Regions from separate parts of the Homo sapiens genome. Here regions 2 and 3 are each linked to region 1. The links come from fine-mapping of genetic effects on gene expression. A gene starts in region 1. Each other region holds a variant in brackets. All regions are shown on one strand. Distances are from middle to middle.

Region 1 (10,342 bases):
TGGGAGGCTGAGGCAGGAGGATCACCCGAGATCAGGAGGTAGAGGCTGCAGTGAGCCCTGATGGTGCCACTGCACTCCAGTCTGGGCAGCAGAGTGAAACCCTGTCTCCAAAAAGAAGAAAAAAAGAAAAAGAAAAAGAAAATCACAAGGAAGAGAAAATACATTTACAGTTACAGAACGCTACAATATTTATCAATGCCATAAATTTGTTTACAAGATGAATTGTCTGTCTGAAGCAGACAACCGCAGCTGTAGAGCTCCATTTATGTTACGTAGCAAGCAATTCAACTTTTTCTTGTCCTGTCCTGACTTTTCTCTGCTTCTCGGGAGCATTTCCAGCATCACTAGTGGCACTTTACATGGGTCTCAGGATGTTATTCAATGTTTGCGGTATTGCACTAAACACAGTGAAAAATACGCGGGAACCGCCAAGAGATCCCTTTTTACCGGGGCACAAATTCCTGGAGAGGTGAACTGCCCACAGGGAGATAATTAATGTAACATGGCATTTAAAGCGGATACTTGCAACACTTGCACTCACTCCAGTAGCAACAGGAGGTGGCTATGAAATTGTTACAATAACACAATATATTCTATAGTTAATTTTATGCAGTTATGATTGAATGCTGCATCTTTACATTTATTTACATTTCTCTTGACTTGGAATAACACCATGTATGGTTTGTAAGTGTGTGTGTACGTTTTAATACATTTTAACTTTTTGTAACAGATTTGTGTATATTTTATGTTAGCAAATTATAAAATAGGGCTGGACATGGTGGCTTATACCTGTAATCTCGGCACTGTGGGAGGTAGAGGCAGGAGGATCACTTGAGTTCAGGAGTTAGAGACCAGCCTGGGCAACATGGTGAGACCTCGTCTCTATAAAAAGTAAAAAAATTAGCCGGGCGTGTTGGTGCTTGCCAGGAAGATCGCTTGAACCCAGGAGTTGGAGGTTACAGTGAGCCATGATTGGGCCACTGCTCTCCAGCCTGGGCAACAGAGCAAGACCCTGTCTCTAAAAGAAAATAATAACAAAAATAATAAAACAGACTAGTATCTACATATATTTTATGCATTCATGACATACCTAATTTTTTTTTAATATTTCTTGGCTACCAAGTTCATCTGCAAGTCTTTTCAAACTATTGCAAATCTCTAAAAATGTTTCCAATATATTTATTGAAAAACATTCTGTTTAAAGATGACCTCACTTTGGGAGGCTGATCAGATCAGCTGAGGTCAGGAGTTCGATACCAGCCTGGCCAACATGGTAAAATCCCGTCTGTACTAAAAATACAAAAATTAACCGGGTGAGGTGGCGTGTGCCTGTAGTCCCAGATACTTGGGAAGCTGAGGCAGGAGAATAGCTTGAACCCTGGAGGTGGAGATTGCAGTGAGCTGAGATTGCTCCACTGCACTCCAGCCAGGGTGACAGAGCGAGACTCTGCCTCAAAAAAAAAAAAAAAAAAGATGTGCACGGTTCAAACTCATGTTCAAGGGCCCACTGCAGTTCTCACCCATGGCTTCACTTTCTCCTCTTTCTTTTCTGCAGCTACAGTGAATGCCTGGTTCAGTTGCAAGAATGCCTTGCCCACTCTCCTCTGGGCCTTTGCTCATGCCTTCCCCCACCTGAAACACATCCCTATGGCTTCCCTAGGATGGCTCCTCTTCATTTTCAGACTTAAGCTCAAAATCACATCCTCAGTCAGGTGCAGTGGCTCACGCGTCTGTAATCCCAGCAATTAGGGAGACCGAGACAGGCAGATCTCTTGAGGTCAGGAGTTCAAGACCAGCCTGTCCAATATGGTGAAACCCTGCCTCTACTAAAAATACAAAAATTAGGCAGGCGTGGTGGCATGCACCTGTAATCCCAGCTACTCTGGAGGCTGAGGCAGGAGAATTGCTTGAACCTGGGAGGCGGAGGTTGCAGTGAGCCAAGATCGTGCCACTGCACTCCAGCCTGGGCAACAGAGTAAGATCCATCAAAAAACAAACAAACAAAAAACCCCATGTCCTCAGCAAACCCCTCCCTATGCACCTCCCATTTCCCTCAGCTCATTACACACTCAATTATTTTAAGGGCTCTCTCCCTGGCTCAGTTGTGAACTCCATAAGGAAATGGGTCATGTTTATTTTGCTCACTGAAAAATCCCCTATTACTTATTGCTTGTTGATTCTCCCACTCAACAAATATTTATTAAGCAACAGATTTGTCAGGCACTGGGTTTAAGCAGTGAAACAAGACCGAAAAGATTTCCGCCTTCACGGGAAGGGGAGAAGACACAGAAAACGAATAAGAATTTCAAGGCCAATCATGGTGGCGCATGCCTGTAATCCTAGCACCTTGGGAGGCCAAGGCAGGAGGATTGCTTGAGGCCAGGAGTTCAAGGCTGCAGTAAGCTAGGATTGCACCACTGCATTCCTGCCTGGGTGACAGCAAGATTCTGTCAAAAGGAAAAAAAAAGAAAGAAAAGAAAAAAAAAAAACAAACAATTGCAGGTAGTGGGGTAAACATGCTATGAAAATGAGAGAGAAGGGGCCAGGCGCAGTGGCTCAGGCCTGTAATCCCAGCACTTTGGGAGGCCAAGGCCGGTGGATCACCTGAGGTCAGGAGTTTGAGACCGGCCAGGCCAACATGGTGAAATCCTGTCTCTACTAAAAATACAGAAAATTAGCTGGGTGTGCTGGCGCATGCCTGTAATCCAAGTTACTTGGGAGGTTGAGGCAGGAGAATCACTTGAACCCAGGCAGGTGATGTTGCAGTGAACTGAGATCTGGCCATTGCACTCCAGCCTGGGCAACAGAGAAAAACTCCATCTAAAAAAAAAAAAAAAAAAAAAAAAAAAAAAAAAAAAAAAAAAACAGAGAGAGAGAGAGAGAGAAGGAAACGGAACTGGGGGGAGGATTTGCAAAAATATGGTTAGGGATGGCACTTCAGAGATGAAGCCATCCTGGAGTGTTACGGGCAAGGGAAATGCTGGGGCAAAGGCCCAGAGGCAGGAATAGGTTTGGCCTGTTGCATGAACAGTGGGTCCAGCTCCTAGCAAACTGTTTATTGAATGAAAGAAGAATGAATGCCTTGGGTCTAGGGTTGTGCTGGGCGCTTTCTTAAGTTTTCTTTCCCGGGTACCTCCCCAGAACTGGCATGCAGGTATTATTAAACCCATTACACAAGTGAAACTGGCCCAGAGACAGAAAAGTCCCTGGTCCAAGACCACACAGGAGTGAGGGGTGGAGGAACCCTCCTCCCATTGAGTTCTGGCTTTCCTATACTGAAAGCCCCTTCCTCTCCTGCAGTAAGGTAGGTGGAACCGCTGTCCCGCCTTGTTGGTGAATGTCGTTGCTAGACTTCAGACACATACAGGCTGGTCTGCTGAAAATCAGAGATGTCCACCTGCGCCCTATTCGAGGTCTCCGGCGTCTTCTTTGGCGTCGTCTTTGCCCTTTCAGAAGCGTCTGCACATTTTTCCAGGTGTCATTTCTCCAACTTGAACACAGGGAGCGCACTGGGCACGCGGGCACGTGGCTGTCCCCAGGGGCCTGGCTTGGGTCTCGCCCCTGGGCCGGGGCGCACTCGCGGGCGGGACATCTGGGGGCGCCCACGCGCTCTGGGACGAGTGTCGCTGGCCAGGCCCGGACTGAGGAAAGGCGAGTGAGACACTACTCGCCTGGGGTGCAAAATTTAAGGGAGTGAAAAAAAAAAAAAAAGAAAGAAACCAAAACCACCTCGAGTCACCAAAATAAACATTTTAATGCAGTATTTTTTAAAAAATCAACAGGAATCCTCCAAAGCCCACTATGAACAAAATAGCAAAATGGTAGAGAAAGGATCTGTGCCGCTGCGTCGGGCCTGTGGGGCGCCTCCGGGGGTCTGAAACTGGAGGAGACTCGGGGCTGTAGGGCGCGCGGATCTGGGGCGCGCCCTCGGTCCCGGCGCGCCCAGGGCCTCCCGCGCGGGGCCCGGCACAGGGAGGCGGGGAGGCGGGCGGGGCGGGGCGGGGCCGGGCGGCACCTCCCTCCCCTGCAAGCTTTCCCTCCCTCTCCTGGGCCTCTCCCGGGCGCAGAGTCCCTTCCTAGGCCAGATCCGCGCCGCCTTTTCCCGCGGCCCGCACGGGGCCCAGCTGACGGGCCGCGTTGTTTACGGGCCCGAGCAGCCCTCTCTCCCGCCGCCCGCCCGCCACCCGCCAGCCCAGGTGCCCGCCCGCCAGTCAGCTAGTCCGTCGGTCCGCGCGTCCCTCTGTCCCGGAGCCCGCAGATCGCGACCCAGAGCGCGCGGGGCCGAGAGCCGAGAGACAGTCCCGGGCGCAGCGCGGAGCTCCGGGCCCCGAGATCCTGGGACGGGGCCCGGGCCGCAGCGGCCGGGGGGTCGGGGCCACCACCGCAAGGGCCTCCGCTCAGTATTTGTAGCTGGCGAAGCCGCGCGCGCCCTTCCCGGGGCTGCCTCTGGGCCCTCCCCGGCAGGGGGGCTGCGGCCCGCGGGTCGCGGGCGTGGAAGAGAAGGACGCGCGGCCCCCAGCGCCTCTTGGGTGGCCGCCTCGGAGCATGACCCCCGCGGGCCAGCGCCGCGCGCTCTGATCCGAGGAGACCCCGCGCTCCCGCAGCCATGGCCACCGGGGGCCGGCGGGGGGCGGCGGCCGCGCCGCTGCTGGTGGCGGTGGCCGCGCTGCTACTGGGCGCCGCGGGCCACCTGTACCCCGGAGAGGGTGAGTCTGGGGGCGCGGGCGTGGGCGGGGAGCGCCGCGATGGGGAGAGGACCCCACCCAAGCCAAAATCGAGCCCCCGCTTGTGGACTGAGAACCCTCCCCAGGGGCGGGGGGCGGTGGCCAGGACGGTAGCTCCTGCATCGCGTAGGGGGAGCGGGAAGCCTCTGACCTTGGCCTTTGCCCGCCCGGGCTCGCGCCTCCGCGCCCTGCGTGCCCGACCTGAGCCCGAGGAACCTTGCCCCGGTGCCCGCCCCGCCGCGGGCTCCTCTCTGGAGCGCGCCTCCGACCCGTGCCCCGGCCCCTCCGAGCCCAAGTCGCTCCGGAGACACGACACGCGTCATCTTTGGGTCGCGGCCGGGAAGTGGGGTCACTGGGTCTGGACAGCCCCGAACAGCCAAGTCCCCCGAGCGCATATGGTGTAGGTAGAGCCAAGCGCCCTGAGTGCCTCACCGGTGGGTGACGCTGCCTGGGGTCAGGGACTGCAGAGCCCCCCTCTACCCAACTACCTTGGATCTAGGCCCGTGGCCACCCCGGACTCTAGGTCCATGTTTACCCTTTTGGGTTCTGTTTCCAGATGTCCGGAGGCAAATTCTAAAGCCTTAGCAACAGCAGCAATTGTAGCAGAAGTAGTGGCGGTTTTTTACCCTATTTATTGTAATTGGTATCACCGCACGCCACAGCCTAGTCTATCTTATCTCTCTGGACTGTCACAGTGGCCCCCGGAGGCAGATACAGTTATGCACCCATTTCACAGAGGAGTAAACTGAGGCTCATGTAGGACGCATAACTCCCTTGCCCTAAAGTCAGTGCCAGAGCCAGGACTTGAGCCTCTGTGTGTCCCGTTCTGCCCAAGAATCTGGACTACTGTCCCTTGTCTGCTGTCTCCTTGACCCCTCCTCTCCCCTCAGCCCTGCGCTTCATGAAGGAGCCTTTGACCTTGAGTGAGCCTTTCGTTCCCCCTGACCCCATGGGCCCCTCTCCCACGTGTGGGCAGCATCTTCCTTGGGCTTGACAATAGGCACCTTTGGGGTTGTAAGATGAAGATGGCGCAATCATTTAAGGAATATAGCCTGGGTTTCCCACTGTGGGGTCTGAGGCCCTGCTTTAAAAATATCTGTTGGGTTACTGTTTCAGATTTCTCCATAAAAGGAAATCAGTCGTGATGAGGAAGGGGTCAGGGAGGGAAGGAATTGAAGCTCTTAAATGTATTGATGGGGAAACGGGTGCATGTAAAATCAGGTGCTAGAGTGGACCAACCGGGTTTGCTGAGTCGACTCTGTCAATCACATAATGTCTAAAAGCCCCGGGCCCACCCCCCCCCAGCCCCGCCCCCAGGTGCCTGGGAGACAGTAGGTGCTCAATGAAGGGTGGCGGTTAGTTGGAGTTCTTGTTAAGAAAATCTGGCCAGCTGCGGTGGCTCAAGCCTGTAATCTCAGCATTTTGGGAGGCTGAGGCGGGCGGATCACGAGGTCAGGAGATGGAGACCATCCTGGCCAACATGGTGAAACTCCCTTCTCTGCTCAAAATACAAAAATTACCTGGGTTTGGTGGCGTTCGCCTGTAGTCCCAGCTACTTGGGAGGCTGAGGCGGGACAATTGCTTGAACCCGGGAGGAGGAGGTTGCTGTGAGCTCAGATGGCACCACTGCACTCCAGCCTGGCCAAAGAGCGAGACTTTGTCTCAAAAAAATAAAAAAAAAGGCGGGGCGTGGTGGCTCACGCTTGTAATCCCAGCACTTTGGGAGGCCGAGGCGGGTGGATCACCAGTTCAGGAGATCACGACCATCCTGGCTAACACGGTAAAACCCTGTCTCTACTGAAAAATAGAAAAAATTAGCCGGGCGTGGTGGCGGGCGCCTGTAGTCCCAGCTATTCCGGAGGCTGAGGCAGGAGAATGGCGTAAACCCGGGAGGCGGAGCTTGCAGTGAGCCAAGATCGTGCCACTGGGCGACAGAGCGAGACTCTGTCTCAAAAATAAATAAATAAATAAAAAGAAAATCCAAGATGAGTGGTTTCGAACTATGCCAGATTCTATGTGTGCGTGTGTGTGGTTCCCTGTTCTTCTGTTCCTTGTAGCTTTGGTAATTAATTGTGGATCTGTGCCTGGGCTTTCAGGGTCAGTAAATGGATTTACCATTTCTTTGCACATTTATGGCTTCCATATGGGCAGGGGTTTATGGTTTGTTGTTGTTCACCGTTGCATTTCTAGAGCCCAGAACGATGCCTGGCACATAGTAGGTGTTCAGTAAATATTTGTTCTGCAGTGGGGCACAAGTGGTGGAGTTCCTGGGTGTACTGGGCTCCTTTATCATCTTAAGGAGTTCCTTATTCTCTGCATAATACCTTCCTAAGAATTAGAAGAGCAAGCTCTCAGCAGGTGCTGTTCTATGCGCTTTGCATATATAATCTCAGTTAATCCTCACGGCAAAACCCCACGAGGTGCGGTTTAATCTTCCCTTTTCACAAGTGAGAAAACTTCGCTTGAGGCCAGCAGGCAGCAGGGCTGGGATTGCAATCTAGCTAGTGTGGCTGCAGAGCAATGGTTTCTTAACAAATCTTTGTTCTTTTGAGTCCGAGCCTCCGTACCCCCCACGATTGGGGTGATGGTGAACAAAATCCTGTCAAATAAATGGGCTGTGATGCCTCTTGAAGGCTTGGGGAGGGGCAAAGAACTTTTCAGATCATTAATCTCTAATGTCAACCAATATGGCTTTTTTTTTTTTGAGACGGAGTCTTGCTCTGTCACCCAGGCTGGAGTGCAGTGGCACGATCTCAGCTCACTGCAACCTCCACCTCCCAGGTTCAAGGGATTCTCCTGCCTCAGCCTCCCCAGTAGCTGGGATTACAGGCGTGTTCCACAACACCGGCTTATTTTTTGTATTTTTAGTAGAGACAGGGCTTTGCTGTGTTAGCCAGGATGGTCTCGACCTCCTGATCTTGTGATCCACCCGCCTCGGCCTCCCAAAGTGTTGGGATTACAGGAGTGAGCCACCGTACCTGGCCTTTTTTTTTTTCTTTTTTTTTTTTGAGACAGGGTGTCACTCTGTCACCCGGGCTGGAGTGCAGTGACACGATCTTTGCGACCTCCGCCTTTCAGGTTCAAGTGCATCTCCTGCCTCAGCCTCCTGAGTAGCTGGGATTACAGTCGTGTATCACCACCCTTGGCTAATTTTTGTATTTTTAGTAGAGATGGGATTTCGCCATATTGGTTAGGCTGGTCTCAAACTTCTGACCTCAAGTGATCTGCCTGCCTCGGCCTTCCAAAGACCTGGGATTATAGGTGTGAGCCATCACTCCGGGCCCAATATGGCATTTTGATTGGGATGAAGGGTGGAGGAAAATCAGTGTGATTTTTGTATCTATCTCTCTAGCTATCTATTATTTTTTGAGATGAGGTCTTGCTCTGTTGCTTAGGCTGGAGTGCAGTTGGGCAATGATGGCTCACTGCAGCCTCGACCTCCTGGACGCAAGCCATCCTCCTATTTTAGCCTCCGTAGTAGCTGGGACCACAGGCACACGCCACCCTGCCTGGCTAATTTTTACTTTAATGTGTAGAGCTGAAGTCTTGCTATTTTGTCCAGGCTGGTCTCAAACTCCTGGCCTCAAGCGATCTGCCTGCCTTGGCCTCCCGAAGTGCTGGGATCACAGGCATGAGCCACGGTGTCTGGCCTCTGCAGTTATTCTTATTCTTTGCTTCTCTCCTGGAGACCTGCTTCTTGCCCTTCCCCATTCATGCATAGAGACCACAGGGTGTGGGCTGAGTCCCCAGGGCTCCCCACCTCACCCCACTCTACCCTTGACTTCCATTCCTCTTTGGTTTAAGCAGAACTCTCAATCTTGGCACTGCTGACATTTGGGGCTGGATCATTCCTGGTGGTGGGGGCTGTCCTGTATGTAGAGTGTTGAGCTGGAACCATGGTCTCCACCCATGTGGTCCTGGGAGGATCCCCTTCCCCCCAGGCATGACAACCACTAATGTCTCCAGACATTGCCAGGCACGTCTCTGCAGGAGTTAACCTTTTCCCTGTCTGAGACATTTACCCATCTGGGCTCTTGCTCTTTCTCCTCTCTTTGTTCAATAATCCTCGGCCGGGTGCAGTGGCTCACGCCTGTAATCCCAACACCTTGGGAGGCTGAGGTGGGCGGATCCCCTGAGGTCAGGAGTTTGAGACCACCCTGGCCAACATGGTGAAACCCCATCTCTACTAAAAATGCAAAAATTAGCCAGGTGTGGTGGCGGGTCCTTGTAATCCTAGCTACTTGGGAGGCTGAGGCAGGAGAATCGCTTGAACCTGGGAGGCAGAGCTTGCAGTGAGCCGAGATCACACCATTGCATTCTAGCCTGGGCAACAGAGAGAGACTCTGTCTCAAAAAAAAAAAAAAAAAAGAAAAGAAAAAAGAATCTTCATTTACCCACGTGCTTTTTCAGCCTCTAAACACCCAGTACCCCCCAATCCCCATTACCTACCACTGACCTCCAGCCTCCACCCTGTCCAGCTTCCCCAGGCCAGTCCTCCCTGCCCTTTCCATCTCACTCTTTTCTCACTGTTCTGCCCCCAGCATCTGGCTTGCATCTCCGCTGCTTTACCGATGGCTCTCGAAGTTAATCTCTCATCTCCCAGTTGCGTCTCCTGCAGCCTCACCTCACTTGACCCCTCTGGGTTTGACATTGCCAGTCCCCCCTCCTGGAAGGCTGTGTCTCCCGTCTCACCTGTGCCTAAGTTCTTCTGTTTTACTGTTCTCTTCTCCTTCTACCTGGGCTAAGATGTTGGCTCTCTCTTCCCAGAGGGTCAGTGTTTCCTTTAATCTTCTCTCAGCTCACTTTTTTTTTTTTTTTTTTTTCACTTCTTCACCCGGGCTGGTGTGCAATGGCATGATCTTGGCTCACTACAACCTCCGTCTCCTGGGTTCAAGCAATGGTCCTGCCTCAGCCTCTCCAGTAGCTGGAATTACAGGCATGTGCCACCCCGCCTGGCTAGTTTTTGTACTTTTAGTAGAGACAGAGTTTCACCCCATTGGCCAGGCTGGTCCCAAACTCCTGACCTCAAGAGATCCACCTACCTCAGCCTCCCAGAGTGCTGGGATTACGGGCATGAGCCACCGTGTCCGGCCCTTTTTTTTTTTTTTTTTTTTTCCAATTTTTATTTCTTTTTAGAGACAGGATTTTGCTCTGTCACCCAGGCTGGAGTGCAGAGGTTTAGTCCTAGCTTACTGCAGCCTCCAAGTCATGGCCTGGAGCAGTCCTCCCACCTAGGTTCCCCAAGTAGCTGGAATCACAGGCAGGTGCCACCATGCCCAGCTAATTGAAAAATTTGTTTGTAGAGACAGAGTCTCACTATGTTGCCCAGGCTGGTCTTGATTTCCTGGCCTCAAGTGAGCCTCCTGCCTTGGCCTTCTGAGAAACTAGGATCACAGGCAGGCACCACCATGACTAGCTAATTTTTAAAATTTATTTGTAGAGACAGAGTCTAGCTATGTTGCCCATGCTGGTCTTGAATTCCTGGCCTCAAGCAACCTGCTTGCCTCCGCCTCCTGGGTACCTGGGCTCACAGACAGTCACCACCATGCCTGGCTAATTAAAACTTTTTTTTTTTTTTTGTAGAAACAGGGTCTTGCTATGTTGCCTAGGCTGGTCTT
Region 2 (10,342 bases), 110 kb after region 1:
AAGGAAAATGTAATGAGATAATGTGTTAGCTTATGAATGGAGCAGGAAGGGCGACTTCTGCTGGGGAAGTCAGGGAAGATCTGTGTAAGGACCTGAAGGATGCAAAGGAGCAAGTCACAAGGGGACAAGGGACCAGGGTGCTCCACCCAGAACAGCTTGTGCAAGGTCCTAAGGTAGGGCTGAGCCTGGGTGTGTGTGGGTGGGAGGTGCAGAAAGGAGGCCAGCCTGGGAGAAGAATTTAGCAAGACTGGCAGGGATTAGACCCCCCAAGGCCTGTAGGGAGTTGGCTTTTATTCTGTATGCCTGAACTGTCTCGTCTGGGAGACGGTAGTCATCTGTGGCTAGTAAACATTGGAATTGTGTCAGGCACAGTGGCTCATACTTGTAATCTCAGCACTTTGGGAGGCTGAGGTGGGAGGATCGCTTGAGCCAGGAGTTCGAGACCAGCCTGGGCAACATAGTGAGACCCCATTTCTACAAAAAATTAAACACTTAGCTGGGCGTGGTGGCGCATGTCCATTATTCCAGCTACCCAAGAGGCCGAGGTGGGAGGATCACCTGAGCCCAGGAGATTGAGGCTGCAGTGAACTGTCACTGTGTCACTGTACCCCAGAACCTAAGTGACAGAGCCAGACCCCATCACACACCCAAAAAAGAAATCGTTACACATTTTATCCATATGACAAAATATCACAAGTACCCCATAAATGTGTAAAATATTCTGTATCAATGTAAAACTTTTTAAAAATTTTAAACTGAAATTAAAATGAAATGCAGTTAAAAGTTTTGTTCCTTGGTAAAAATTGGAGCCCTGGTACACTGTTGGTGGGAATGTAAAATACTGCAGCTAGGCTGGGCACAGTGGCTCACACCTGTAATTCCAGTACTTTGGGGGGCCAGGGTGAGTGGATCACTTGAGGTCAGGAGTTCGAGACCAGCCTGGCCAACACGGTGAAACCCCGTCTCTACTAAAAATACAAAAAAATTAGCGGGGTGTGGTGGTGGGCACCTGTAATCCCAGCTACTCGAGGCTGAGGCAGGAGAATTCCTTGAACCCAGGAGGTGGAGGTTGCAGTGAGCCGAGATCGAGTCACTGCACTCCAGCCTGAGTGACAGAGTGAGACTCCATCTCAAAATAAATTTTTTAAAAAAGAATAAATCCTATATTATTCCACTTATATGAGGTTCCTAGAGTCATCAGAGTCACAGAGACAGAAAGTAAAATGGGATGTCGGGCGCAGTGGCTCACACCTGTAATCCCTGCACTTTGGGAGGCTGAGGCAGGAGGATCACGAGGTTAGGAGTTCAAGACCAGCCCGGCCAACATGGTGAAACCCCATCTCTACTAAAAATACAAAAATTAGCTGGGTGTGGTGGTGGGCGTCTGTAATCCCAGCTACTCTGGAGGCTGAGGCAGGAGAATCACTTGAACCCGGGAGGCAGAGGTTACAGTGAGCTGAGATCGCGCCACTGCACCCCAGCCTGGGCAACAAAGCAAGACTCCATCTCAAAAAATAAAAATAAAAAAAAAGAAAAGAAAAAGAAAGTAAAATGGCAGGTGCCAGGAGTTGGGGAGGAGGATGAGTGTGACTGTTTCATGGGGGCAGAGTTTCAGTTTGGTTAAGGTGAGAAAGTTCTGGAGATGGGTGGTGGTGATGGTTGCATAGCCACATAAAAGTATTTAATACCACTGAACTATACATTTAAACATGATTACAATGGTGAATTTTATGCTATGTGTATTTTACCACAATTAAAAAAAAAATTGGATTTCCTAGTTGCACTAAGCACATTCAGAAGCCACAGGGGAGAAGTGGCTACTATGTTGGATGGCCCAGATAGAGAACATTTCCGTCATCGCAGAAATTTCGACCAGATGGTGCTGTTCATATATGGATGTAGCTTCTGGGGCCACTTCTGTTCCCTGAGTTTGGCCGGTGGGATCCACTGTGCTGAGAATCACAGTCTGGGGATTTGGGGTGAAGAACACTCCCCAACTTTCTTTCTTATTTTTTGTTTTGTTTCATTTTTTGTTTTGAGACAGAGTCTCCCTCTGTCACCAAGGCTGGAGTGCAGTGGCATGATCTCGGCTCCCTGCAACCTCCCCTCCCAGGTTCAAGCGATTCTCCTGCCTCAGCCTCCTGAGTAGCTGGGATTACAGACGCCCACCACCACACCCGGCTAATTGTTTGTATCATCAGTAGAGATGGGGTTTCACCATGTTGGCCAGGCTGGTCTGAAACTCCTGACCTCAGGTGATCCGCCCACCTTGGCCTCCCAAAGTGCTAGGATTACAGGCATGAGCCACCACAACCAGCCTTTTTTTTTTCCTTCCTTCCTTCCTTTTCTCTCTCTCTTTGTCTCTCTCTCTCTTTTTTTTTTTTTTTTTTGACAGAATTTTGCACTTGTTGCCCAGGCTGGAGTATAGTGGCACGATCATGGCTCACTGCAGCCTCCACCTCCCAGATTCAAGTGATTCTCGTGCCTCAGCCTCCTGAGCAGCTGGGATTACAGGCATGCACCAGCACACCTAGCTAATTTTTGTATTTTTAGTAGAGACAGGGTTTCACCATGTTGACCAGGCTGGTCTCAAACTCCTGACCTCAGGTGATCCACCCGCCTCGACCTCCCAAATTGCTAGGATTACAGGCGTGAGCCACCACACCGAGCCACATTTGCATGTTTAAGTAACTAACATGTCTCCTCCATTAGACCTTGTGCTCCCAAAGGCAGGATCTGCAGCCACTTTTTTCCCCACAGTGGCCACAGTATCTAGATTAGTGCAAGCAAATGTCTGTTGAAGCAATCAGTGGTTTGGGGGCAAGTTACTTAACCTCCCTGTACCTCAGTTTCCCCATTTGTAAAACAAAAAAATAAAGGAGCTAACAGTGTATCTACTTCACATGTGGGGTGCAGCAGCATGCTGGAGTTGGCTTGCTGGAGCCAGTGGTGAAATTTTCAGGCAATTTGTGAGCCATTTGTTAAACATAGATATTCATAAAAATTACATAAACCTACAGTTAAACAAATTACATTAAAAACAAAAGTTTTTAAATTAACAAAGCTTTTTAAAAGTAACAAATACTCAAAACTCACCACCTCCTAATATCATACGATGTTTTCCTATTATTTGTGCTGTTGAGGTTATTTACTACTTTTGTGTCAATAGTAGATACATTTTGTGTATACTTATAAATACTACTTAGAGGAATGCTACTGTGTATCTTTTGTCAGCTTATGTTTAGTAACTTCATGTTGGTGGCCTGAAATCCACCACTGGTAGGAATATTTACACCATGGAAATCGGCAAATGCTATATAAATCTGGGCCTCCCTGGGCCCCTCCCTCAGGCAGCTGTTAAACATTTACAAGCTCACCAATGGTTTGGAGGCTTAAACCAGTTAATAGATGTGTCTGACATGTGGGTAATGATGTAGACGTGCCGCTTTTACTGTTAGTGTTTGGTTGGCTTTCACTGTCTGATCCAGAATTGCTGCATATGCAGACAGGAATTGGACAAAGCCATTTATTTATTTATTTATTTATTTATTTATTTATTTATTTATTTCCCTCTCTCTCTCTCTCTCTCTCCAGTTTGCCCGACCATCTGTAAGTCACACGGCTGCACCGCCGAAGGCCTCTGTTGCCACAGCGAGTGCCTGGGCAACTGTTCTCAGCCCGACGACCCCACCAAGTGCGTGGCCTGCCGCAACTTCTACCTGGACGGCAGGTGTGTGGAGACCTGCCCGCCCCCGTACTACCACTTCCAGGACTGGCGCTGTGTGAACTTCAGCTTCTGCCAGGACCTGCACCACAAATGCAAGAACTCGCGGAGGCAGGGCTGCCACCAGTACGTCATTCACAACAACAAGTGCATCCCTGAGTGTCCCTCCGGGTACACGATGAATTCCAGCAAGTGAGTTCTGGATGTGGGTCTGGGGGGCAGCCGAGAGGAGAAGGAACGTGGGGTTGGTTGTGACGATGCCGCTTGTTAAAACTGTGTGCAAACCCAGGGTTAATTGGCTATGAGTGAGGTCTCTGCTCTCAGATGCTACTTTTGCACCCTGTTTTGGTCCTGGGCTTGGGAGTGGGAGTTGACTACCTTTTTCTCTAAAGGACCAGATAGTATATACTTCTGGCATTGTGCCCACCATTCTTTTTTTTTTTTTTTGAGATGGAGTCTTGCCGCAAGACTCCCAAGCTGGAGTGCAGTGGCACGAACCTGGCTCACTGCAACCTCTGCCTCCTGGGTTCAAGCGATTTTCCTGCCTCAGCCTCCCAAGCAGCTGGGACTGCAGGTGCCTGCCACCATGCCCGGCTAATTTTTGTATTTTTAATAGAGACAGGGTTTCGCCATGTTGGTCAGGCTGGTCTCGAACTCCCAACCTCAGGTGGTCCACCTGCCTTGGCCTCTCAAAGTGCTGTGATTGCAGGTGTGAGCCACCGCACCCAGTCTGGCATTGTGGACCTCAGTTCTAAGCTTTCTGTGGTTGGCTTCAGAACAAGAAAATATAATAAGGACAGAGTCCTTGGTTTTCCCTAAAATCCTCCACGTGGCCTGTCCTCACTGATGTAGCTTCATCATTGTCACATAAAGGATATACCAAGGTCTTTCGTGTCTTCCCTGACCTGTAGCCTGGTGGTGTGCCAAGATTAGCCCAGAACATACTGTCTCCAGGAGGAAGAGACTC[G/A]CTTCTGCATTATTCTCAGGGCTTTGCTGTTCTCTGAAGGACAGTATAATCAAACCATTTCCTGCCGTTTGGGTGAGAAATAGCAGGGTTTTCTCTCTTCGACAGAGTCAGATTTCCTACGCACATCGCAGACTTTCTGTTCGTACTGTGAGCTTCTTCCATGAGCTATTTTGGGGCCGTAACTGAGTTGCAAAAATCTGTTTCCTGGTTTTTGTATTGAGGTTTTATGTTTTGTTTTAAAACACACACACACACACACACACACACACACACACACCACAAAACAACACAAAAACAAATCAGAAACAGACACACATCAAGAGGCCTTGAGCTGACCTGCTTACGTAAAGTATCTTCCTCTTCAGACTTGAGAATTAGCCAAGCGAGAGTGTTGGGGTGGGAAATTGTATTTCCCTGGGTGGAGAGGGCGGGAAGGAAAACAAGCTGTAATTTCAGTTCTTATGACTCTTTCTTTGAGTGTTTGTGAAACCTGCAAGTACAATATGTTTTGTTTTGCTCGTTGTTGATAAAAACCTACCAAAAAAACCTTTTGGCTTTATTGACCAAAAGGGTCTATAAATCACCTTTTCATACCAGACAGACTTTTGTTTTAGGTTTTTTTTTTTTTTTTTGGCCAGTGTATTCCCAAGATTGAGGAAATGACCATATTCCTTTTGATTCATTTCTTTCTTTTTAAAATCACAATTGAAATAAAAAAAATGGGTTAATATCTTCTGGCAAGATGTTTGTTTAAAAGACATTGGCCTTAAATAAAAGGCATTTTTCCCTCACCTTAACAATGGCCTGAGAAATATAGCAACCTCCTTTGATTTTCTCACTGATGATGCGGGAGATGCTAAAACAGAAACCCTGAGAAATTGACCGCACATCCTTGGTATCTGGGACCTTTCCTGAACGGAAGAAAACAAAGGAGAGGGGGGTGCATTGTCACCGTATTTTATTGCGTAGGTTTAAAAAAATTAATATTTTTATTTCTGAAGCTTTTAATTAATTAATTTATTTATTTTGAGACAGAGCCTCACTCTGTCACCCAGGCTGGAGTGCAGTGGCATGATCTCAGCTCACTGCAACCTCTGCCTTCCAGGTTCAAGCCATTCTCCTGCCTCAGCCTCCCAAGTAGCTGGGATTACAGGTGTGAGGCAGCAAGCCTGGCCAATTTTTTTTTGTTTGTGCTTTTGTTTTTTTGAGATGGAGTTTCATTCTTGTTGCCCAGACTGAAGTGCAATGGTGCGATCTTGGCTCACTGCAACTCAGCCTCCCGGGTTCAAGTGATTCTCCTGCCTTAGCCTCTAAGTAGCTGGGATTACAGACATCTGTCACCATACCCAGCTAAATTTTTCTTGTATTTTTAGTAGAGACCGGGTTTCATCATGTTGGCCAGGCTGGTCTTGAACTCCTGACCTCAAGTGATCCACCCACCTCGGCCTCCCAAAGTGCTGGGATTACAGGCATGAGCCACCGCACCTGGCCTGAAGCTTTTCTTTTTATCTTATGAAAGACTTAATCGTACTGTGGCATTTTCTAATGTGGTTTGATATCAAATAGGGCCAGATGTTTTCTTCCATTCTGGTGGCTTATCTGGGAAGGAGTTCTTGATGTTTTCAGAGCAGAGTTCTGGGAACCCATGTTAAAAGGCCTTGGCCAGGCACAGTGGCTTATGCCTGTAATCCCAGCACTTTGGGAGGCCGAAGTGGACGGATCATCTGAGGGCAGGAGTTCAAGGTCAGCCTGGCCACCACGGTGAAACCCCGTCTTTACTAAAAATACAAAAACAAAAAAAAAATTAGCTGGGCATGGTGATGCATACCTGTTATCCCAGCTACTCGGGAGGCTGAGGCATGAGAATTGCTTGAACCCAGGAGGCAGAGGTTGCAGTGAGCTGAGATCACGCCATTGCACGTTAGCCCCCAGGCAAGTGTGACAAGAGTGAAACTGCATCTCCAAAAAAAAAAAAAAAAAGGTCTCACCATCTACTGTCGTTCCAAAGTACCTGCTGGGATGTAATAGCACAGTGCTGCTTCCTGAGATGAGAAGGACCAGATATTTGTGATGAATAAATTTTCAATGCGTATGGGGTATCCACTGGGAAGGGGAGAATTACCTAAAATCCTTGATTCTTCTTGGCCTCTCTCACTTCTTCCTATTAAGCTGAGGTCTCAAATTTGTCTACACCTCCATCTATTTCACCATCATGTCTGGTCTGACCCAGTCCCCTTGAACAATCTCTTTGCTCCTGCTTCCATTCTAGTGACACTGGTAAAAAGTGGCCACCTGGGCCAGGCGCGGTGGCTCACGCCTATAACCCCAGCACTTTGGGAGGCCGAGGTGGGTGGATCACCTGAGGTCAGGAGTTCGAGACCAGCCTGACCAACATGGTGAAACCCCATCTCTACTAAAAATACAAAAATTAGCCAGGCGTGGGATTACAGTGGGCGCCTGTAATCCCAGCTACTCGGGAGGCTGAGACAGCAGAATTGCTTGAACCCGGGAGGTGGAGGTCGCAGTGAGCCGAGAGTGTGCCACTGCACTGCAGTCTCGGTGACAGAGTGAGACTCTGTCTCAAAAGAAAAAATAAAAGTGGTCATCTGATCATATGCCATGTCCTTCCCTAAAACCCTCCGGTGGCTTCCCAAGACCAATGGACAGAATCCAAACTCCTCATCGGGAGGGCTCGGCCAGTTCTCATTCTCATTTCATTCCGGTGCCCCCTGGCCGTGGTGGTCGTTACCGCAGGAGCTTTTCCTGCAACTTGCTACATCCGCTTTCCTCTGTGCCTTTCAATTAGCTGTTCCCTCTTCCTATAATGCTTGTCCCTGCATTTGAGAATGATCCACTTTTTCCCCTCGTCATCTAGATGGCAGCTTAAAAGTCACCTCCTTGGCAAATCCTTCCCGTCTGAGTCAATCATCCGTGCACTCTCTGTCACATCATTTAGTTTTAACTCTTCGATTTGTCACTAGCTGATATTTTTGTCTTTTTTTTTTTTTTTTGAGACAAGGTCTTGGTCTGTCACCCAGGCTAGAGTGCAGTGGCACCCACATGGCTCACTGTGGTCTCAACCCCCTGGGCTCAAGAGATCCTCCTGCCACAGCCTCCTGAGTAGCTGGGACTATATAGGCACACACCACCACACCTGGCTAAAAAAAAATTCTGTAGTGTTGGGGGTCTTGCTATATTCCCCAGGCTCGTCTTGAACTCCTGGGTTTAAGTGATCCTCCCACCTTGGCTTCCCAAAGTGCTGAGATTACAGGGCCTGAGCCACTGTACCTAGCCTTTGTTGTCAATTTATTCACTCTCCCCAACCAGATGATAAGCTTTGTGAGTGTATCAGCTAGCTCTTGTTGCGTAACAAAACCACCTCAGTGCTTAGTGGCTTAAAACACTCCTTTAGGAGCTCTGATGATTTCATGTGTTGACTGAAGGTTTGTCTGGCCTGGGCCTGTTTAGCTACGGCTGATGGTTTAGGGGAGCCTCTTGTGTCTTTGATGGTCAGTGGGGGTCTCTCTCCATAAGTCTCTTACCCCAGCAGCCAGGAAGGGCAGACCTCAATGTTCAAGTGCTTTTCAAGCCTCAGCTTGTATCACGTTTGCAAATATTCCATTGGCCAAAGCAAGCCATATGGCCAAGCCCAGATTCAACAGGTGGGAACATAGACTCCACTTCTTGGTGGGAGAGGCTGCAAAGAACTCATGGTCATTTATAATTTCCCACTGGGAAAGCATATTATCTGCTTTGTTCACTCATGTATACCGGCAGCTGAGAACGGGGGTTGGCCAAGGGCCAGATAGTAAATATTTTCAGCTCTCAGGGCCATATGGTCTCTGTTGGAGCTACTTAACTCTGCCTTTGCAGCGTGAAAGCAGGGTTAGACGATGTACTAACCAATAAATGTGGCCATATTCCAATAGGATATTATTTGCAAAAACAGGTGGCCTACTGGATTTGGCTCCCAGCCCACTGTTTGCCAACTCCAGGCTTAGAGCATTGCCTGCCACATAATAAGAATAGAGGCAATAAAAGAAGTCAAACATTTGGTCAGTATTTTGTTTCTGCCTCAGCTGTTCTGCCACTACCTGGGTGTACTTGCAACACCGTTCTGACACCATCCTCCTCCAAAGTTAGCATCAGACGCCACAAGTTTAAGGCTCAGCCCTCCATGAGATTTCCCTTGCTTCAGACACTGGCAGCATCTTGGGGATCCCCCAGCCACCCACACTTCTGACTAACTGGCTCTAAATTGGGGGATTCCCACAAACTGTTTGGGTTTCATAATTTACTAGAAGGAACTCACAGAATGAAAATAAACCTGGCCAGGTGTGGTGGCTCATGCCTGTAATCCCAGCACTTTGGGAGGCCATGGTGGGAGGCTCACTTGAGCCCAGAGGTTCGAGACCAGCCTGGACAACATAGTGAGATCCCATCTCTACAAAAATTTAAAAACATTAGCCAGGTGAGGGGGTGCATGCCTGTAGTCCCAGGTACTTGAGGGGCTTAAGCAGGAGGATCGCTTGAGCCCAGGAGTTCGAGGCTGCAGTGAGCTAAGATTGTGCCAGTGCACCCCAGCCCGGGTGGCAGAGCAAGATCTTGTCTCAAATTTAAAAACCCTGCTATACAATTACAGTTTTATTATAAAGGATACACATACGGCAAGATCTGGGAGAGTTCTAGATGCAGAATTTCCATATTGCCTCCTCGTGGCAACAGCATGTATCACCCTCTTGACATACTGGTGTGTCCACCAGCTGGGAAGTACTACTGAGCTTCAGCGTCCAGAGTTTTTGTTTGTTTGTTTGTTTGTTTTGAGACGGAGTCTCACTCTGTCACCCAGGCTGGAGTGCAGTGGCTCAATCTCAGCTCACTGCAACCTCCACATCCCAGGTTCAAACAATTCTCCTGCCTCAGCCCCCCGAGTAGCTGGGACTACAGGCATGCACCATCACGCACGGCTAATTTTTGTATTTTTAGTAGAGACAGGGTTTCACCATGTTGGCCAGGCTGGTCTCAAACTCCTGACTTCGTGATTCACCTGCCTCAGCCTCCCAAAGTGCTAGGATTACAGGCGTGAGGCACTGCACCCGGCCCAGTATCCAGAGTTTTAATTGGAGTCTCATTCCTTAGGCGTGATTGATTGAAATCATTGACCATGTGATTCAACACTGCCATTTCCAGCCCCCTCATCTCCCTGGAGGTCCTAAAAGCCCCAACCCTCTGATCACAGGGTTGTTCTTTCTGGTGACCGCCCCCCACCCTCATGTTATCTAGGCACCCCCCCCCCCACAAGTCACCCCGACATTCCTAACACTCCTAACAAAAGCATTCCTGTGACTCAGAAAGTTCCAAGGGTTTTTGAAGCTCTGTGCCAAGAACCGGGATGAAGACCAGATACATACTTTATGATCCTACAGTCACAAAAATCACTCTGAAGAGTTGAATACCCAGGAGTGTGAGAACAACAGCAGCAGCAACAAGGATGCCACCAATAAAAAATGACCCTTGTAGCAACGGATAAAATTGCGTTCTGTGTGCGAAGTGCTTTTGTGGTATGCTTCATTGAGTTCCTCATCACAAGCTGTGGCGTTGGTGGTGTTATTTTCAGATGAAGAAATGGAGACTGTAACAGTTGGGAATCT
Region 3 (10,342 bases), 180 kb after region 1:
TTAAGAATGGGATAGAGTCATAATGGCAACCTCCAAGCCCTCTCAATTCTTGATTAAGAACACAGGTAGACATGAATCCCAATTGTCTATTGCTATCTTATTTATATGATTCGGGAAAATACAGCATGTAAAAATATTGCTGAGGAGCCTCAGTGATTGGGTACAAGAAGCAAGAGTACAGAAATTATTTTTGCCAAATTTATTTTGTAAATATGAGGGTCTGTACCTAAATTTAAAAAAAAAACACGTAGAACTAGGTATTTTGTTCTCTTCTTAGTAAATTTGTAGTGGTTGTATACTACACTAGCTGCAATTTTCACATTTTTCTAATTCAGAAAGGTTTTTCTTATATTAGGGGAAAAAGTATTTATTTTAATATATAAAATCACTCTGAAAATCACTCTCATAAAAAATGGAGCGCATGTAAATTTTTATCAAAGAAAAATAAACAGGTGAATGGGGGATAGTGATTTTCTTTTTTCAGCACAGTCTACCTCAGTGTATTGTTAAGATGTGATTCAATCATGGACATCTTTGAGATTTCAGAATTCTACCTGGAACCGGTCTGAATCAGGGAACGTGTGTATCAGCTGATTCGAATGCCAGGGACCAGTAAGAATTTTGAGGGAGGGAGTTGGGATGGAGAAGGTATGGCCTTTATGCGAGCATAGATCCTTTTCTTCCTGGCTGGTAATATTCTTCTCTGAATTTAATCTTCCTTTAAAAAAAAATCCTCCATCTATTGTCACTATGTTCCCCAAACATAAACTAAGTTCCAGGCTGTCATGATGTATCTGATATATGGGGTAACCCAGCAAGGTGTACCTTCCTTTGGTGAGAGATGGCTGCCGGGGCAAAGACGGGCTTTGATTCAGAGCAAGCATTCCCACCTGTTCCATGGAATCCCCCTGAAGTGAGCACAAAGGTGCCCTGGGCTCCCTGATGGTTTATGCCCACTCCTTTCAGGCTGGTGATGCACCTTACACACAAACACCTAATGCAATGTCTTTTTAAATTCTCCAAGTGGGATGGGAGCATGTGAGGGAAATTCCAATCCAAAACCCATTAATGTGCTGAACGCTTTTTTTTTTTTTTTTTTTTTTTTTGCAACAACACCTTGGACCTCTGTGTTGGGGTTTGACTGACCTCAAGCTGATATTATTGGACCTTGTGCAGCTTTGATAACCCATGTGAGAGTCTAGGCAGGACCAGTGGGGCCCAAATCTTGCTGCTCTTGTACTTTTAGGCACTGCCCTTGCAGACTCACCTTTCTCCACCTGCCCTGGAGAAAGGTAGGGTGTGCTGGGCCTGCCCCTTGCAAATGGGATTCACCAGTTTCATTTATTTGACTCTACTGCCACAGTGAAAAGAGCAAACAGCTATTGGGTTGCAAACCTCCTTTGACATTAGGAAATGTTGACTTTGTAACAATAAAACTTTGGTCCTAGAAAGACACGGTTGTCCTGGGAGTTTGTAGTGTTAAGTTGCAACAACAACAACAAAAAGCAACAAAACCAGCTTAGGATAACACTTTTTGTTGCTTGTTCTTAAAGATGTCTCACTATGATTAAAACCCTTTTCATTAATGTAGTGAAAGCCACACAGGAGTTCCTTCTTCCAGGAGGAGAATACCAAGCACATCACTTTCTCTCTGCATCAGTGATGTCAAATACGCATCAGAAAATGTTCAGGTTTTAGGAGCTGTCCTAGGTGCTGTTTCATCATTGGAAGCAGTGAGAAAGAGAAGCACTGCTGCTTGTCTGGATATAGGCTGAGGATGATTGAGAGAAGCTGTGGGAACTGACACAAGGGTCTGCATAGGTCATCCTGTGACCCTGGGGACTATGTTACCAACTGACAGACAGATCTTTCACTGTATCCTAGCAGGGCAGGTAGTCCACCAAGAAATGTGCTTATTGGATTGGGAGGTGTTTATTTGTAGTCTGCTGTAACACGTGTGAAAGAGCAGGAGCGTCATCAGCATATGACTTGCGCTGGTCATCCGGTAAATGGATGTGCTGTAGTCCCAGTGCTAATCATTTCTCTCCTTCACAGTGGGTGGAAGTTTAGGGTTAAATGTCCTTTGAATGTCACCTGGTGAGTCCTTGACACCTTAGGCTCTTCAGAAACAATGGTTTTGTTGAGGATGGGGAACAGGGAATGCCGATTTTATATACATGGTACACAGAGAGGGGTGTCACTTCAGAAAATCTTCCAGCATGTTCTTCAGAATATTAATTTATATGCGAGGTGAGGTTGGGAATGAAAAGAACAGGTCAGCACTTTTTTTTTTCCTAGAACATACAAAAGAACATGGTGGACTTTCAGGGAGTGCAATGGAAGGTGAATATTTCCTTAAGGGTCCCCGAGAAATGGGAGTGAGGGGAGGGGACACAATGGCTTTTTGAGCTTACTTTTACCTTCTGATACTAGTCAAGGTCCAGAACCAGCCACCAGCCAAATTTCTATCTGGGTGCGGGCCACTGAAAATCCTTGTTAAAAACCAGATCACAAATCTGGGGCTCTTGGTCCCATTGGAGAAGGAAGGAAGAGCCTCAAAATAAGTGTGCACCCATGCACATATTCAGGAACAGCTTGTTTAGTCTTTACACTTTGCCTGAAAGTTGCTTCTCCTCGTCCCTTTGTGTGCCTGGGTGGCCTCGGCCCTGTGCGTTGGCAACGCAGGATCAAATGTGCTGCAGCTTTTGCAGAAAACAACTCAGAAACACAAAACCCCCCAACAGCTCAATTATTATTTTTTCAATGTTTTCCTACAAGAGCCAAGTAGCACCATGTACAGAAGACGCCTTTTTTTTTGGAATATTGAAATCGTTCTGCATGTAAAATATGGGATAATGACCTGTTTATATTAAAATTCTGATTAAATTATCTGAGAATACGCTTGTTTTTGTGTGGTGTCCCGGTAAGGACCTGTCGTGTGGTCGGGGGATGTGGCTATGAGTTGGGCTGTGTTAAGGAAAACCTCTTGGAATATGTAGGTGCCTTTTTTTAGAGGAGAAAAACACCTAGATTCTTCCACACATGAAAAGGGAGGTTAAATAGTTGCTACCAGCAGAGTTGATGACTCGTAGGGACATACTTGTATGGCCAAACTGGTGGTTTAAATATTGCACTATTTCCATACCATTTGGTAAGTAAGCGCTTCCCCAAGGGCTCCCAGACCTCCCCATGGTCCAACCACTAAAGGGTTCACTCCGAGAATACCAATGAACCTTCAAGATCTTGCTCTATTCTGACATGCGGGAAACTCATATGTTAAGTATTTTCAATGTCATCCTGGGAGTGGAGACCTGTCCCAGGTTGGGTGGACAGGTGAGTGACCATGGGTTAGACCATGGGATTGAAAGCCTTTTGAATAGTCTTTCTTGAGTGGCTTAAAACAGCAACTGTTTATTTATTTTCTTTTTTTGTTTGTTTGTTTTTGTTTTTGTTAGTTTGTTTTTTGAAATGGAGTCTCACTCTGTCACCCAGGCTGGAGGACAGTGGTGCAATCTCAGCTCACTGCAACGCTGTCTCCGGGTTCAAGCAATTCTCCTGCCTCAGCCTCCCAAGTAGCTGGGATTACGGGCGTGTACCACCATTCCCAGCTAATTTTGTATTTTTAGTTTCATCATGTTGGCCAGACTCGTCTCAAACTCCTGACCTCAGGTGATCCGCCCGCCTCAGCCTCCCAAAGTGCTGAGATTACAGGTGTGAGCCACCACACCCAGCCTTATTATTATCATTATGATGATTATTTTTGTATTTTTAGTAGAGACGGGTTTTCGCCATGTTGCCCAGGCTGGTCTCGAACTACTGTTCTCAAGCGATCTGCCCGCCTCGGCCTCCCAAAGTGCTGGGATTGCAGGCATGAGCCACGGTGCCTGGCCTGTTTCTTACAGTTCTATGTGTTGGTTGGGTGGTTCTTCCGGGAACAGCCTCACTCCTGTGCTGAGGCCTCTGCTGGGAGAGCCAGGATTGCTTGTCTTCTAGGAGGTTCACTCAGGCTTGTTCATATGGTGGTGGTTGCAGGGATACCCAGTCGGAAGGAACAAAAAGCCCCCAAATGTAAATATTTTCCAAACTTCTGCTCGTGTGGTATTTGCTACTGTCCCATTGCCCAAAGTAAGTCCCATGGCCAAACCCAGAGTCAGCTTTGGAGAGGACTGTCCAAGGATGCAGATAAAAGGTGATGTGAACCAACTAGAGTCCAATCCTGCAATAATCTTCCACTCCTTTACCCTCCTATCATTATTATTATATTTTTTTAATAATATAAAAGTGGGCCGGGCGCGGTGGC[T/C]CATGCCTGTAATCCTAGCACTTTAGGAGGCTGAGGCGGGCCGATCACAAGGTCAGGAGATCGAGACCTTGGCCAGGAGATCACCTGGCCAACATGGTGAAACCCCGTCTCTACTAAAAACACAAAAATTAGCTGGGCGTGGTGGCGGGCGCCTGTAGTCCCAGCTACTCGGGAGGCTGAGGCAGGAGAATCGCTTGAACCTGGGAGGCAGAGGTTGCAGTGATCTGAGATCATGCCACTGTACTCCAGCCTGGGCAACAGAGTGAGACTCTGTCTCAAAAATAAAAAAAAAAATACTACTACTACTACTACTAATAATAATATAAAGGTAAAGTTCTCACTTTACCATCCTATTATTATTATTATTCCTTGTTTTTGAGATGGGAGAAATAGCAGTATGGATGATGACAGGGATAATCCAGTCATCAGAGGGAAAAGAGATGAAGGCAGGGGATCACTAGCTCTATGTCCTTAAGCAAACAAGTGACGATGAGATCTACGGCACAGGTGGAGGGGTTGACCTTAGCTAAAGTGCAAAGTATGTGGGCTGTGGAATCTCTCTCCCTCCCAAAGGCAATGGAACTCAATCCCCAACCCCTCCAGGCGGTCTCTGGATTTCTCCAGACCACCTACCTCCAGCTGGCAGTGTTCTGAGCTGGGCCATCGAAAGTTGAGGTTATTGAATGTGTGTGTTTCCCCATTATCCTGGGAGCTTTCCAGAGGCTGCATGAAAGTTGCGTCTGAATTCTTCACATTCCTCCAAACTCTGGCCCAGAGTTCCGCAGTATGGGGTTGTTAAATTAGCCTGAAGACACACAAAGCAACTAACTGGCTAAGTGGCTGGTTTTACAAAGGGCGGTGGTCCTAACCCTGGGCTCTGGAATCCCAATGGTCATTCCAGCTCTCTCCCCTCCTCCTTTCTGCTCCCAGTTCTCTGCCATCCAGCTAGCAGGCTGATCATGGCCCACAGAGGCCCTACCCTCCTATTATTGACGATAGACCTTACCTTATATGACCATGGCAAAGATTAAATGAGGTAACATTGATCTCTCATGCTCCCTTCAGGATGGACATTCCCATATCCCCAAGTCCCTCCAAGTTCCCTGTTCTCCAAGAAATTGATGCTACTGCTTATCGGCTGTGGTGGCAGCGTAAATTCTGCTTCCCTGGGTTTGTGAAATTCAATGTGAGTCTCTTGGAAAATGGAAAATGTTTTTCTTCCAAGGAAAGCTCATCAAGGAAGGCATCAGTCTCAGGGAGGGTGGACGGCCGTGTGGTCTCTGTGCAGAGGAGCCACTTGGATTCCTTGAAAGCCCTGGCCAAGTGATCACAGCACCTTTTAGCAGGGTAGCTGGCGCCCTGGCCTGGAGTGGGGAGTGTCTGCACTGGGTTCCTGGAGCTTCCTCCTGGGCCTTGGGTGCTTATCAGAATCCCACTTATTAAAAACAAAGGTGTGTCTGTCTAAGCCACACCCAGGCCTCCTCCATGAGCATCTATGGGGCAGGGCCTGGGAACTTGCATTTTAACAACTTCCCCTTCCCCCACTGGACTCAGCTGACTCAGGACAAGAACACGGGAACTTTGCTTCCATTCTGCCTTTGCCTGTGTAAGGGATCCAAATATGCCACTCCAAAGTATGCCACTTTTGGCCGGGCACAGTGGCTCACACCTGTAATCCCAGCACTTTGGGAGGCCAAGGCAGGCGGATCACCTGCGGTCAGGAGTTCGAGACCAGCCAGGCCAACATGGTGAAACCCTGTCTCTAATAAAAATACAAATATTAGCTGGGTGTGGTGGTGCACACCTGTAATCCCAGCTACTTGGGAGGCTGAGGCAGGAGAATCGCTTGAACTCAGGAGGAGGCAGGAGAATCACTTGAACCCGGGAGGCGGAGGTTGCAGTGAGCCGAGATCACGCCACTGCACTCAAGCCTGGATGACAGAGCGAGACTCTGTCTAAAAAAAAAAAAAACACTTCACAACAACAAAGTATGCCACTTTGGCACATTGGTTATTTTGAGTTAAAGGTGCTTGAAAAATAGCAAACAAGAAGGACACTCTGACTTTCCTTTTTCTTCCTGAAAGCAGGAGATGAAACTACCATACTATATTTTGTCCAACCTAGTACATAAGCATTCAGCTCCAACTGCTTCTTTAGGTCTTCGTTTTTCTTACAAAATCTCCCCTGCACATGTAAAAATTACTAAATAAAGACCAGGCATAGTGACCCAGGCCTGTAATTCTACCACTTTGGGAGGTCAGGGCAGGAGGATCACTTGAGGCCAGGAGTTCACGACCAGCCTGGGCAACATAGAGAGACCCTATCTCTACGAAAAATTTTACAAATTAGCCAGGCACAGTGGTGCACACCTGTAGTCCCAGCTGCTCAGAGGACTGAAGTGGGAGGACTCCTTGAGCCCAGGAATTGCAGGCTGCAGTGAGCTATGATTGTGCCACTGTCCTCCAGCCTGGGCGACAAAGTGAGACACTGTCCCCAAAACTAAACAAAAATCCTCAACTAAATGAAATGTGTATATTTATCTTGTTAATCTGTCTTATGTCAGTCCCAGTCAGAGACTCTAAGAGGGTGAGAGGGAAAGGTTACTTCACCTGACCCCCAAAATATTATATTTGTCTTAGTGGCTCAAGTCAGCTCCCGGAAGCCCTCTGCCTCATTTTGAACCATGGCTCTCCTATGATTAGTTGTACGAATCTCCCTGTGTATGGGGATGACAGTGGTCCCTGCTCCTTACGGGTGTTGCGGGATATAAAATAAATTTGTGGTGTGTGTAAAGCACTTACACAGGGCATGGCTAAAGTAATTGATGGTGACAGAAACCAGATCATGGGTTTCCTATGGTGGGGGTAACGGGATCTTGGTTGTGAAAGGGGTACATGGGAACTTTCTGGGGTGATGGACATGTTCTGTACCTTGACTGAGGTAGCAAATACATGGGTATATGCATTTATCAGTTCACTGAGCTGTACGCTTAAAACCTATCCCTTTTATTGTATGTAAATTATACCTCAGTTAAAAGAAGTTGCCTGGCACACAGTAAGCACTTAGTATGTGTCAGCTGTTGCTTCCACCAGCATTAACATCATCACCATCATAATTATCACCATCATCATCATCATCACCATCATGATCGTGATCACCATCACCCTCATCATTATATCATCATTACCATCTCCATCACTGTCATCAGCATCACCATCATCATTATCACCGTCATCACCATCATCGTCAGTATCATCACCATCATCACCATACCATCATCATCAGTATCATCACCATCATCACCATCATCACCATCCTCATCACCTTCACCATCATCACCATCACCCTCATCATCATTATATTATCATCACCATATCCATCACTGTCATCATCATCATCACCATCATTATCACGGTCATCACCATCGTCACCATACCATCATCATCATCATCACTATCATCACCGTCACCATCCTCATCACCATCGCCATCATCACCCTTATCATTATATCATCATCACCATCTCCATCACTGTCATCATCACCATCATCAGCACTGCCATCATCATCATCACTATCATCACCATCATCACCATCTTCATTACCATCATCACCCTCATCATCATTATAGCGTCATCATCATCTCCATCACTGTCATCATCACCATCATCATTAACATCATCACCACTATCACCATCATCACCATCACCATACCTTCATCATTATCATCAGTATCATCACCATCCTCATCACCATTACCATCGTCACCATCACCCTCATCATCATTATATCATCACCATCTTCATCACCATCATCATCACCATCGCCACCATCATCACCATCATCATCATCACCACCATTATCACCATCACCATACCATCTTCACCATCATCATTACCATCACCATCATCACCATCATCACCATCATAATCATCACCATCATCACCATCATCATCACCATCACCATCACCATCACTATACCATCATCATTATCTCCATCATCACCATCTCCATCACCATCATCACCATCCTATCACCATCACCATCATCATCATCACCATCCTTACCATCTTCATCACCATCATCATCATCACCATCTCATCACCATCACCCTCATTACCATCACTATCATCGCCATCATGGCCATTCTTATCATCACCATCATTATCTTCATCATTATCTGATGCCTCAGGATCATTTCCAGTGCTGGCTACTACCCTTGGATCTCTGCCTCCTTCTTCCACCCTTCTAGAAGAAAGAAATACTTCTCTTTCTTCTCTTTCCCTCTTCCCTGCTCTCTTTCCTGTATCTTGTTCAGTGTGGGCCTCTTCTTTGCTGCCTCCACCCTGGCTTCCCCTTTTCACTTCTCCCCTTAATTCCCTTCCTCTCTCTGTATTTATCTCACTGTTTCTCCTTGTGTTTTGATTTTTTTTTGTTTGCTTGATTGTTTCTTCATCACCCTGCTCCCTCCTTGTTTCTGTCCTACTTTCTACTTCTTGCCACTCTTTTATCTCTGTTTTATTTATTTCAAGTCTGCTTCATCCTCTCCTCCATCTTTTTCTGTATCTGCCTTCTGCTCTTTTCTCCTATTCTCTTAATCTTTCTCCTTCTGTGTGCTTCCCTTTGTGGTCAGCCATGTTTCTGCCTCTCTTCATTTGTGCTTCTCCTCTTTTTTTCCCTTCTCTCTCCATCCTCACCATCTACTCCCCTCTTGCACCCACCATGGTTCCCTCACTTTCTTTCTTTCTTTCTTTTTCTTTCTTTCTTTTTTTTTTTTTTTTTTTTGAGACAGAGTTTCACTCTTGTTGCTCAGGCTGGAGTGCAATGGCACAATCTCAGCTTACTGCAACCTCCCCCTCCAGGGTTCAAGTGATTCTCCTGCCTCGGCCTTCTGAGTAGCTGGGATTACAGGCACCTGCCACTATGCCCAGCTAATTGTTTATATTTTTAGTAGAGACGGAGTTTCACCATGTTGGCCAGGCTGGTCTCGAACTCCTGACCACAGGTGCGCCTGACCTACTTTATTTCTTTTATACATTACTTCTGTATCTCCTTACCCCATCTTTCCCTCTGTCTTTCCTTCTATGTAGGACTTTTCTGTCTTCCCATTTTTTTCTCTATTTCCCCCTCTCCTCCTCCCACTCTTGTCTTATTTTTCTTCTCTCCCTTTGCTTCCCTTGTGTGTGTTCCTTAGTTTCTCTCCTTCTTGGTCACTCTCTCTGAGTTATTTCTCCAGTTTTGGTCTCACTTGTTTCTCTTTTTTTGCTTGTGTATTTCTGCTACCCAATCTTCCTGTCACACTATAATTTGGGCTTTGCTTTTCTTTCTCTCTCATTTCACCTTCCTCCTCCCACTCATATCTCTGACCTCCTCCCCCTTTTCTACCATTCTGTTTCTACCTCTACTTCTCTTGGGGCCTTTTTTTTTTTTATCTATCTGTATTTGTAATTTCCTATATGTTTGTCTATTGCCTTCTCTTCATCCACCCATCCATCTATCTGTCCTTCTTTCCTTCCTTTCTATCCATCCACCCACCCATTTGTCTGTATATCCATCTTGTCTATCCATTCATCATCTATCCACCTACCTGTCCATTCATCCACCCATCCATCCATTTATCCATCCACCTATCCATCCATCCATCCATTCATCCATCCATCCATCATCTATCCCTCTTCTTGTCTGTCCATCAATTTATCTGTCTGCCTGTCCTTTCATCCAAGGCTCCTATCCAGTGGTAAGACCCTGACAGGCTGAGAAAGCAAGGCACAGGCTTTGGTTTCATAGACCACAGCCTCACAACCAGAGGAGGAACTCTGGCTGGGCTCTGGGTTAGAATGGGGATGTGGGTTGCTGAGACAGTCAGACTTGGGAGCCAGGAAATGCAAATTCTGGCCTTGGCTCTGCTCCATGTGTGTTCTGCATGACCACAGATGAGACAGTGGTCATCAGGATAGTACACAAGTGAGAGAAAACATCTTCAAAGTACTTCACAAAAGAGGGAAGCCATAATTTTAATAGGGCTGACATAGTTGGTGGGTGGT

Evidence for each region. PIP is the estimated chance that this variant, and not a neighbour inherited with it, causes the effect.
Region 2: its variant is fine-mapped to the expression of INSR in blood mononuclear cells (TOPMed, PIP 0.98). The same link has a PIP of 0.9 or more in whole blood.
Region 3: its variant is fine-mapped to the expression of INSR in lung (GTEx, PIP above 0.99).

The regions. Positions count from the first base shown.
Region 1 is chr19:7,288,156-7,298,497 of GRCh38, reverse strand. It overlaps INSR (insulin receptor), which reads left to right and starts at 4,084. Exons shown (of 22, transcript NM_000208.4): 1 at 4,084-4,706. The coding sequence starts at 4,607. RefSeq lists silencers at 3,503-3,682, 3,823-4,212, 4,233-4,512, 4,653-4,792, 4,843-4,902 and enhancers at 4,884-5,642, 9,545-10,046.
Region 2 is chr19:7,177,890-7,188,231 of GRCh38, reverse strand. INSR (insulin receptor) reads left to right here. Exons shown (of 22, transcript NM_000208.4): 3 at 3,595-3,916. Among named protein-coding and RNA genes, the nearest start is that of INSR, 110 kb to the left of the region's middle. RefSeq lists an enhancer at 8,938-9,037. The variant G/A (reference allele first, on the strand shown) is at 4,692.
Region 3 is chr19:7,104,812-7,115,153 of GRCh38, reverse strand. INSR (insulin receptor) reads left to right here. Exons shown (of 22, transcript NM_000208.4): 22 at 1-2,889. Among named protein-coding and RNA genes, the nearest start is that of ZNF557, 40 kb to the right of the region's middle. RefSeq lists a silencer at 1,589-1,789 and an enhancer at 4,899-5,418. The variant T/C (reference allele first, on the strand shown) is at 4,301.